3 linked regions of the Homo sapiens genome follow. The protein of the gene in region 1 purifies or fractionates together with the protein of each later gene. This does not show direct contact. Each region holds a gene or a part of one and is shown in the gene's direction. Other genes may lie near its edges. The genes, in order: EPC2, MBTD1 and ING3.

Region 1 (3,762 bases):
TCTTAGTGCAGCATTCTGCATTATAGTAGATAGTAAATATTTGTTGATTGAAATCATTGGGAGAAAGGATAGCAAGCAATAAAGAAAACAGAGCAAAATTACTCTAAAGTACATGTATTATCATGTCATTTAATTTTTCTTGACTCTAATATTATAATGACTTCCATGGAAATGTCTTTGTGTTCTCTAAATCAACTTATCAGTGATCTACTTAAATATCAACGAATGAAATTTTGTTTACATTTCTTTGAGAAAAGTGGTTTCTGTAACTTAGCTGATTTTTTCAACAAAAGTTGTAGATGTCTTGTTTTCATTTGAAACACACTTTTAACACAGTTGGTCGCAGTAGAATTTACTACATCTGAGGATACATAGTATCTTCAGTTTTCTGAATACTTGTCTGATTTCTAGCCCATATTTTTATAGATGGATTTACTTTAGGCGTTGAATCTATTGGCTTAAACTATGGTTTGTGGTTATGTTAGATGAATGTTGTTCTCTACTTTGATTTGTAATCAGAGAATAAAGTATTTTCACTTCAGTGTTTTATGAAACCAGCAGTAAAAATCATTTATAGTCTTGCAGATGGTCCTGCTTTCTTATTAAGGCTATAACTTAGTCATCATTATTATTAACATGAATAAATCAAAGTTTTTTTCATTACATGCTCTCCATAATATAGAGAATTAAGAGTGGTCTCAAAGATACTAAGTCTGAATAAATGGTAAAATACTCATGTTAGAACTGTATTATTCAACAAAAACTACATTTAGGCACTTTTCTTAGCATGTGATGGAGATTATAAATACAAGCATACACCACACTTGCTGGAAGATTTGCCATTTTCATTAGATTATTTTCTGATATTCCATATTGTAATTTGTAATTGCTTTCATCTTAATTGTGGAATAAGTTTATATCATATTCTGCTTGTGTTATTAAAAATCTTTTAAAACGTACTCATTTCCAAAATTCATGTTCTTTACCAGTAACAGGGGGTATCACAGAAGAGCAGTTTCAGACACATCAGCAGCAGTTAGTTCAGATGCAAAGGCAGCAACTTGCCCAGCTTCAGCAGAAACAGCAATCTCAGCATTCCTCGCAACAGACACATCCAAAAGCACAGGTAAACTGCTCTTTTCGTCATAGTTACGTTTGTTTCTTTCATCATTATGTAGTTTTATTCCATTTTAGTCAAGTCACAGAAGATAATCTTGGTTTTGCCACTCTTGATTTGGGGTCTGTAACCTGAATTTCTTTTCAGTTAATGTACGTAATTTTAAGTGACTAGCTTATAAACTAATCTCTTAATATTTTGAGAAGAGTGCTGGAGCCAAATATGGTATTTTAAATTTTTTGAAGGGTTGTTGAGAATTTATAGAAGTAATTATATATGTAGTTGTAAGAATCATTCTCCACCTCCACTCCCCCAAAGATTTTTTTGAAAGATAAAACTTTCCTAACCACTTCCTAAACTATGTGTTTAAGTGCATGTGGATGTGCTCCATGAGCTGGGCAGTAATTCAGTTGAATTGTGCAATACATCAACAGCATAACCCCTTGCCATTGTGAATCACATTTCCCTGTTGAAGAAAATTGCAACCAGGCACGGTGGCTCATGCCTGTAATCCCAGCACTTTGGGCGGCCGAGGCGGGCAGATCACTTGGGGTCAGGAGTTCAAGATCAGCCTGGTCAACGTGGCAAAACCCTGTCTCTACTAAAAATACAAAAACTAACTGGGCATGGTGGTGAATACCTGTAAGCCCAGCTACTTGGGAGGCTGAGGCATGAGAATCGCTTGAACCCTGAAGGTGGAGGTTTCAGTGAGCTAAGATCGCACCACTGCACTCCAGCCTGGGTGATAGAGTCAGACTATGTCTCCAAAAAAAACAAAAAAAATTAATTAAAATTTTTTAAAATGAAGAAGAAAATTGCCACTAGGGGAAGTTGTTTGTAGACACCACTAAATAAAGATGCTAGAGATAAGAATAAAAATACTTCATAAAACCATAATTGCCAGAAGGAACCAGCCCTGCCAACACCTTGATTTTAACCCCATAAGCTTCATTGTGGACTTCTGGCCTGCAGAACTATATGATAATAAATTTTTAAGCCACTAAAAGCAAAACTAAGAAATCTATTTCAAATTTGAACCACCTGAAAAACATAAACCTTGCGTTTTAGGTCTTAAGTTTTATTGCTCTATAATTCTAAAACCACTTCTAAAGTAATAACTGAGGTTTACTCAATTTTGGTTATATTTTGTGAGCTCTCAGGCTAGAATCTGCCCATTGTAGTTCAGCCCATTCTCAAAGGGTCAGTACACTGACTTTAAAGATCCTGACTCCAGTAACATGAAAATCTCAGTGACCCTGGAATGCAACACTCCTGTGACATCCAGGTGGATCTGGGACTTGCTCAAGGACTAGGGCTGTAGGACTTAGTAACTAGGACTTAGTAACCAGTTTTATACAGAATCAAGGAGGAATGGCCATTTAACTTTACTTTGTTTGCTTTTTCTGAGTCTCCTGGTTAACCAACCAAAAGTATTTTCATCCTATTTCAGGGTTAGGCCAAGATAGGTTTTCACATTGTGACAAAAATGTCTATTAATCATCTCTATGATTTCATTTTATCCAAGTATGTAGTTTTTCAAGCATTTTTAAAACCATTCATTAATATTTTTTGGAAAAATTAATAGAACATTAAAGCCTTGGGTTATTTAATCTCTAGTTCTTTCTCAGAAATAACTTCTCAGTTTTTGTTCGTTTCCCTGCTTCATATGCCAAAAATCATCTATGGAATCGTAGATCGCTTAATCTAAACACTTGTAATTGTTCAAGGTTAGAAAGGCAACAGCCTCTTGGGTTTGCCCCATCCCTTAATATGTTCATAAAATCACATCTAAAAATTAGAGTGTTTAACTTTGTTCATTTTATAGGGCTCAAGCACCTCTGACTGTATGTCTAAAACACTTGACTCAGCCAGCGCCCACTTTGCTGCATCTGCAGTGGTCAGTGCACCTGTTCCAAGTCGCAGTGAGGTAGCCAAGGAACAGAACACTGGCCACAACAACATAAACGGTGTTGTCCAGCCTTCAGGTACAGCTGGGGTTTCACATGGTACCTACTTTCTTGAAGTTGTAACTCAGTGATTGGGAGTTTGTTTTTTGTTTTTTTATCCAAGGGGAAAATGTGTATAAGTCAATCAGGACTCTTTAGGATTTCTTTGGAAAGATAGTGGGAAATAGGTAGATGTTTTCTAGAATTCATGTAGAATCTACTCCTTGTTTTCTCCCTCATCCATTGAATACATACCTGTGTAACATTCTACCCTTCCTGGTTTCATTCACATACTGTCAGTTGCCTCACATCTTAGGAAATCTGTTGAGCTAACCATCCCCATTGAATCATGCATGCATTGATAAAAAAGTGAAAGATAATCCAGGACAGTAATAAATTGGAAATCAGATTTGCCTTCCCACTCTTACATACTGCTCATAGGCATACTAACTCTGGCTCCCGCTCTTTAGATAGAGTATTGCTGTGAAACCCTGTGTGCTTCTTAGTACCCTGAGTCCGCAAAGACTTGTTATTCCTATCATCCTTCAACTACCTCTCAGACCCTAGGATTTTCCAGTTGCTTTTATATATACCCATGAACCTGATTGTCCATTTTTACTAATATTCATGCATGTGTACATACTTAGGGAAACCCAACTGTCATTTCCATCTGTCCTGTTATACTTAACTCCACAGTTG
Region 2 (3,287 bases), on another chromosome or scaffold:
TACCTGTTGGGAGATTTTGGGATTTTTAGAAGTTAGGCCAGTCACATCTCCAGCTTCTTTTGCTGCAGAAATATGCAACTGAACTCCTCATGGAGGGGTCATCACCACAAAGGTCATGGAAGGGTCATTATTTCTCTTGTTGGCATTTTATTGCAGCCCATTTTAAATGTTTGTACAGAAATATTTTTCATTCTGTGAAAATTTATTTGGAGTTCTGTATGAAACTGGAAGAACTCTGGATACTTTTATATGTTCTCTTTTAATTAAAAAAATGATTAGAATTATCCTAACACTAAAGTGTTAAACTGGAATGGTTGACAAGATATTCAGGATCTCAGTCTACACATTGAGGGGTTGGGGAAAATGTAATGTTGTCCTTAGTTTATTTTCCTTTCTAAAAAAAATACCCCACGAAAGGGATTCTGATCAGTTCTCTGCCATTTCCCTCTATCTGTGAAATAACAGCTTCGTATAACCACAACCAAAAACAGATGTTCTGTATTAGGAGAATCGAATTGAAAGTTATTCAAAGCCAAAATAAGTTTAGATTTCAAAATCATTCCAGCTCTGCTTTTATCTATCCTGGATTTGGTAGAAAACTAATTTGAAAGAGAATTTAATTTTCTTAAAATTCCATATATATATATATATATATATATATATATATATATATATATATATATATATAAAATTGTCTTTAATTGTATTCAGGATTTATTTTAATAATAACCGATTTGGACCATTTTGAACATTCCCTGTTTTAAAATTCATATGACTTCCTTTTAAAAAAAAAAAAAGGATACAAGGGTAAACTGGTGAAAGGTTTGCTCTCTGCATTTTCTAACTTTCTACTGAGTTGTGACTGAATGAGAGCGCTCTAGCGTTTACCAGTGAGGTTCATAAACTAAACTCTCAGGAATTAATTGCATCTGTTCTAGAAGTGCTTCTGGGTCTTAGCCTGGCCTCTTCAGAGTGGTAATATTGACCATCTCCTCTGGAATATAGGTAGGGCTAATTAGAAATTAATCAAAATGATTAACCTCTACAGTCCTTCAGCCTATGGAATGCTTTAAAAAATGTTAATGGAAAGCCCCAGGAGACCATTTTAGGTAAGACTTTTGTTTGAATTTTAAAATGCATAGAACGTTAAAAAAAACCAGCAATTTATTTTCTAAAATATTGCTCTACTTTTGGGAATAATAGCATTGGTAATACGCACAGGTTTACCTCATTCTATGCAAGAGGGGTTAATAACATAAGGTTTTATAATAGCTACTGGAAGTAAAATTTGTTACTTTATAGTGTAAGAATGTATGGAATCGCATGTCACCATTTCTTAATACTGACTCTTTAGGGGCATAAATGCAGATCACATCAACGCAAGTTGATTCTCATGTGTCAAATATATGTGAATTCAGCTGTTAAATTACTGGATATTTATCTTAACATTGCTGAGAGGGACCTACTGTAAATGTGACATCCTCACACTTCCCATATCTTTAACTTTGAAAAATCTTCTTGTAAACTTAAAGCCTAGAAGTATTCCAAAGCAAGGGTTAGAGCAGTCTTTATTCTCAGGCTCACTGAATTAAACCCAGGACTAATTCCACAGCACAGGCACAAGAAGCCTGTTGTGTAGTGTACTCTGCCAGTACCTTGGATTTAGGAGCTCCATGGGGAACTGACTAAACCAGGAGAGAGAGGATTTGGAGCTAGTCAGTCCTGGTAATCTATGAAATGCTCATTTATACCCAGGTTTCATAAGCTTCCAATTCTATAGCAAACCCAGGCTCTGAGTGTTTTAGAATTTCCTAATTCATGAAGTGTTTCTTGTCTTGATCCCGTGACCAACAGTTGAAGGTTGGTAAGGACTTTTCTACAGTCTGAACACAACCTAAAGCCCTCTTTCATTGTTCACACACTAACTCCTACTGCCGACGAACCGAAAAATAATTAATGCAGAGGAGATTTATGTCTTAGCCATAACTCCAGTTGTACAACTCAATCGCCCCATTCTCTTTTACGGTTCAAAATGTACTGCTGACCTTGGGTTTGTTTTTGTTTTGTTTTGTTTTTCCTGTTAGGATTTATTTGGGGACTTTTGGTAGTTTAAACTCTTTAACCTTTTCCTTGCCGTGTATGAGGAAAGCTAAAGCTGTTATCAACTTCTTATTCTACGATACTAACACGGGTTTTCAGTGTTTGTTTGTTTTTATTATTATTATTAATTTTGCGTGATGTGAATACCCTCTCCCATCAATATTTGTATTATGGTGCTATATATTGGTAATGATCCTTTAATATTGGGAAGGGATTTTAAAAATACTGTGATTAAACTGGGTTTCTTCCTTTGATTTTCATATTTTAAATAAAGCCACAGTCATTTATACAAAAGAAAAGCATCTGTCCCTGGGCAAATCTTTTGAGGACAGAGGTCAAAGTAAACTGCATAAGGTTTTTACATCATTTCTGTATGTATTTGATATATAGATCAATATCTGTACAAATTTAATCTTTTATTTTCTTGGTAACTCGTGATCATTGAGAAAGTGTTTGAAACTTTCTCATGAAGTGTATATATAATGGCGTGAAAAATTCCTTTGGAAAAATTTATGTTCCTTTCATTTTTACCAAATTGCAAATTTTCAGCATGGATGTGAAAAGCATTAAAATTATAACTTTGTGTACAAGATGAAAATAATTCACTAAATTTGCCCTTTTTTACACAAAATAAAATGTTAAAGTTAAGCTGGATTTGAGCAGTTCTTTAATATGCTTTGGTTTGGGGGGTTGCTTTTCTATTGCGTGCCCTCTATAAGCAGTCAGAGACCCCTATGAAAGTTGGATCAGCCCCTTCCTCTTACAAGGGGTAGCAGGCACATGAGTGCTGTAAGGAAGAATTTTCCACTAGCTGCCAAGGGAGCCAAGAGTAGTATGGTTAGACATATGGATGAGGTTGCATTGGAGGTGGGATTTCATGGGCAGGGAGGGAAAGGGCAAAAACCACAGCAGGAGCCAAGGTGAATAGGGACCTTTATGGGGAAATTAAATCATCTTAGCTAGAACATCGTGTTTTGGGGTTGGCATGCTTAGTAGGAGACTTTTTTTTTTTTTTTTTTTTTTGAGATGGAGTCTTGCTCTGTCACCCAGGCTGGAGTGCAGTGGCGCTATATCGGCTCACTGCAACCTCCACCTCCCATGTTCACACCATTCTCCTGCCTCAGCCTCCTGAGTAGCTGGGACTACAGGCGCCTGCCACCACGACCGGCTAATTTTTTGTATTTTTA
Region 3 (3,102 bases), on another chromosome or scaffold:
TATAGAATGGTTCCATTATGGCTGCGTTGGATTGACAGAGGCACCAAAAGGCAAATGGTACTGTCCACAGTGCACTGCTGCAATGAAGAGAAGAGGCAGCAGACACAAATAAAGGTGGTCCTTTTGTTTGATGAAGAAATAAACTTCAGCTGAAGATTTTATATAGGACTTTAAAAAGAAGAGAAGAGAAAGAAGAAACAATGCATTTCCAGGCAACCACTTAAAGGATTTACATAGACAATCCTATAAGATCTTGAACTTGAATTTTATGGGTTGTATTTTAATAATGTAAGTAAATTATTTATGCACTCCTGGTGTGCTATGAATATTATTCCAGTTAGCCTTGGATTATTTCAGTGGCCAACATATGCAGACATTTGTACTCCTCAACCATTTTCTCAAAGTAATGGGCATTCTATGATTTAGACTTCAAGGAATTCCAATGATGAAGATTTTAAGGAAAGTATTTTATATTCAACAGGTATATTCTGCTGCATGTACTGTACTCCAGAGCTGTTATGTAACACTGTATATAAATGGTTGCAAAAAAAAAAAAAAGTCAGTGCTTCTAAAAAGAATTTAAGATAATGGTTTTTAAAATGCCTTTATAATAAGCTTTGTTTCTTTGTGAAACTAATTCAGCAGGCTGAAGGAAATGGTTCATGTGATAATGTGGGCTGGTATCCTCTAGAGTACCTGGGTACATAAACAGAAACTCCTGTAGGTAAAAAGTAATTTGTGCCATTAGTCTTTCTATGTTTCTGCATCCAGATAGAGTGCAGTTCATGAGGGAGGGGGCGGGGGACTGAAGGGGAAAGGGCGTTAAAGTGATACATTTTTATACCAAATGTGTTTATTTTTTTGTGCAAGTAATCCTTAAAATTGCAATTGTATTAGGTGTTAAAATAAAGTTTTTAAAAAATTACTTGTATTTATACTTTACATACTTAATAATGAAAATTTCTGAATTCCAATTAACTTTCAACTTTCATAATCTAAAAAGAATCAGAGACCCAGGACACAGAATACTGTGTAATCTGTGATGTCTTTAATGATGTTTAGAGTTTGTGATATAAGAATACAGGAAAGACATTTTTAATGTAAATTTGAAATGCCAATGTATTTTTTTAAGAACATCATCTGGCTTTTCCTTCAGTCTAAAAGACATGAAAGAAGTGTAAGTATAGCAGTTAAAACGAAAATAATGGTTATGGGTGTTTTGACTGGAGGCAATGTAGCCAAATAGAGTAAAGAGACCCCCCTGGTCGGGAGCTCCAAATTGAGCTATTTTTGATTCTACCACTTACTGATATGACAGTTAATTCAAATTTTGTATCACTCTGGGCCTTACTACACCAGGGTGATGCTGACTGCAGAATAGATCTTATTCTAAGGTGCTATTTAAATTATAAATTTGCATAGTGGAGGTTTTATTTAAAGTATAATATTGAGTCTGGTCGATAGAAAAATCCTTAACTTTTAAGATACTTAATATATCATATATATTTTATATTGAAACTTACTGGGTCCATCAGATTTCTGCTTTAATTAAACCACTTATGAGCTTCTTAGAACTTATTCAGATAACAGTGTAAAATCTATGCAGTGCTACCCAAAGGGTGTGAGGTAGATAGGGGATTTCAAAGATCTCTTCCACCTTTGAGATCCCATGATTCTGAGCTGCCACAGTCTGATTATACAACTCTACCAGCTCCCTAAACAAGTTAGGTTCATTTGTGAGTACTCATCATTTCATAATATCATGATTATCACGATTTCATGATACTCAATATTTTGAGATTTTATAACCCTTTAAGAAGTGATAAATAATGTAGTATTCAATTCGTTTATCAAAGTATATTGCCTGGAAATGCTCACATGTATCATTTACATCCTCTATATATTATGACTATTCCAAACTCATTCATTTTATAGAAATGGTCAAAGGAAAAAGCCTTATGTACAGCCTTATTTGAAGAGAAAGTTCTTTGTCTGAGTCAGGAACATCCTGTTATCCAGCTGCTACATCCCCTTTCAGTGTGAATTCCACTCCTTACCAAATCACTTAGAAAACACTTTGACAAGTTTTAAACTCAAACACTGAATATTTTATGAAGCATGTGTAAAGAAAGAAACCAAAATTTGGTGCAGGTATTTAGTAATGGGTAGAACCTGTTAATATCTGAGTCATATATAATGGGGCCAAACATGGAACTACCTCATCAACCCCCCAAAAATGTGGCCAACTATTAATATTCTTTGTGACATTTACACCAAGGGGCATAGTAAGTATTTTTGGTATTATAAAATACACATTCAAAATCTCTGTTGTACAAAACTCATGTAACAGTTGGGACAAAATATCCAAATGTGGGTTCACAGTTCACAGGTGGTGAAAATTGAGGCCTTACTGCTATGGAGTGTATATCAAAATGTTCATGGTGACACATTTGAAGCAATAAATGGCTTAATTAAATGCCAAAATGAGGCTGAGTGTTTGATAAGCATACAATCATTCTTTTCAAGGGCAGTTTATATTTTTTTGTTCTCTTCTCCTTTAAAGCAAATTCCACGTTTTAGGTTTTTAACCATCTTAGGTTTGTGCAATATTAGTGCCCTTTGTCTTTAGACTTTAGGAATGGTCTTATTGACCTAATTAATTATTTTAATCTTATGCAAATAAATGTCTAACAAACTTGGGTTATAAAGGGGTATAAGATACTCCTTAATGTGTAGACATTGCAATGGTTTCCCCTCAGCTCTCACAGATAAAAATACATTTATTTTTTAGCAGATGGGTTTTAAGAGAAAAAAAGACCCTTAAAAATATTCTTTAACTTTACAAATACTAAGCACCTAGATTCTGAGAATATACAGATGAAGGTATTATATGTGTGTGTGGGGGGAGTTGGTGGGGGCAGACATGTTAAATGTGTTATCTTGATGAATGCTGTAATGGATACACAAAGCACTGGGAGAACACTGGGAGGCAGGGAAATTGATTACTGAAATAGTCAAGAAGACTTAACAAAAGAGCTATCATTTGAACTGAGTCCTAAAGACAGATGTAGTAGAGATGGCCTTCAAGGCAGAAGAGACTCT

What was found.
Region 2: the proteins of EPC2 (region 1) and MBTD1 purify together in Homo sapiens (affinity purification with mass spectrometry; 3 studies listed by BioGRID and IntAct, with this or other methods). This does not show direct contact.
Region 3: the proteins of EPC2 (region 1) and ING3 purify together in Homo sapiens (affinity purification with mass spectrometry; 3 studies listed by BioGRID and IntAct, with this or other methods). This does not show direct contact.

Annotation. Positions count from the first base shown.
Region 1 is NC_000002.12:148,780,655-148,784,416, forward strand, and holds part of EPC2 (enhancer of polycomb homolog 2), read left to right. Parts: intron 1-989; coding exon 990-1,126; intron 1,127-2,942; coding exon 2,943-3,102; intron 3,103-3,762. UniProt on the Homo sapiens protein: May play a role in transcription or DNA repair.
Region 2 is NC_000017.11:51,176,886-51,180,172, reverse strand, and holds the end of MBTD1 (MBT domain-containing protein 1), read left to right. Parts: 3' UTR 1-2,748; downstream 2,749-3,287. UniProt on the Homo sapiens protein: Chromatin reader component of the NuA4 histone acetyltransferase complex, a multiprotein complex involved in transcriptional activation of select genes principally by acetylation of nucleosomal histones H4 and H2A.
Region 3 is NC_000007.14:120,974,733-120,977,834, forward strand, and holds the end of ING3 (inhibitor of growth protein 3), read left to right. Parts: coding exon 1-112; 3' UTR 113-2,484; downstream 2,485-3,102. UniProt on the Homo sapiens protein: Component of the NuA4 histone acetyltransferase (HAT) complex which is involved in transcriptional activation of select genes principally by acetylation of nucleosomal histones H4 and H2A.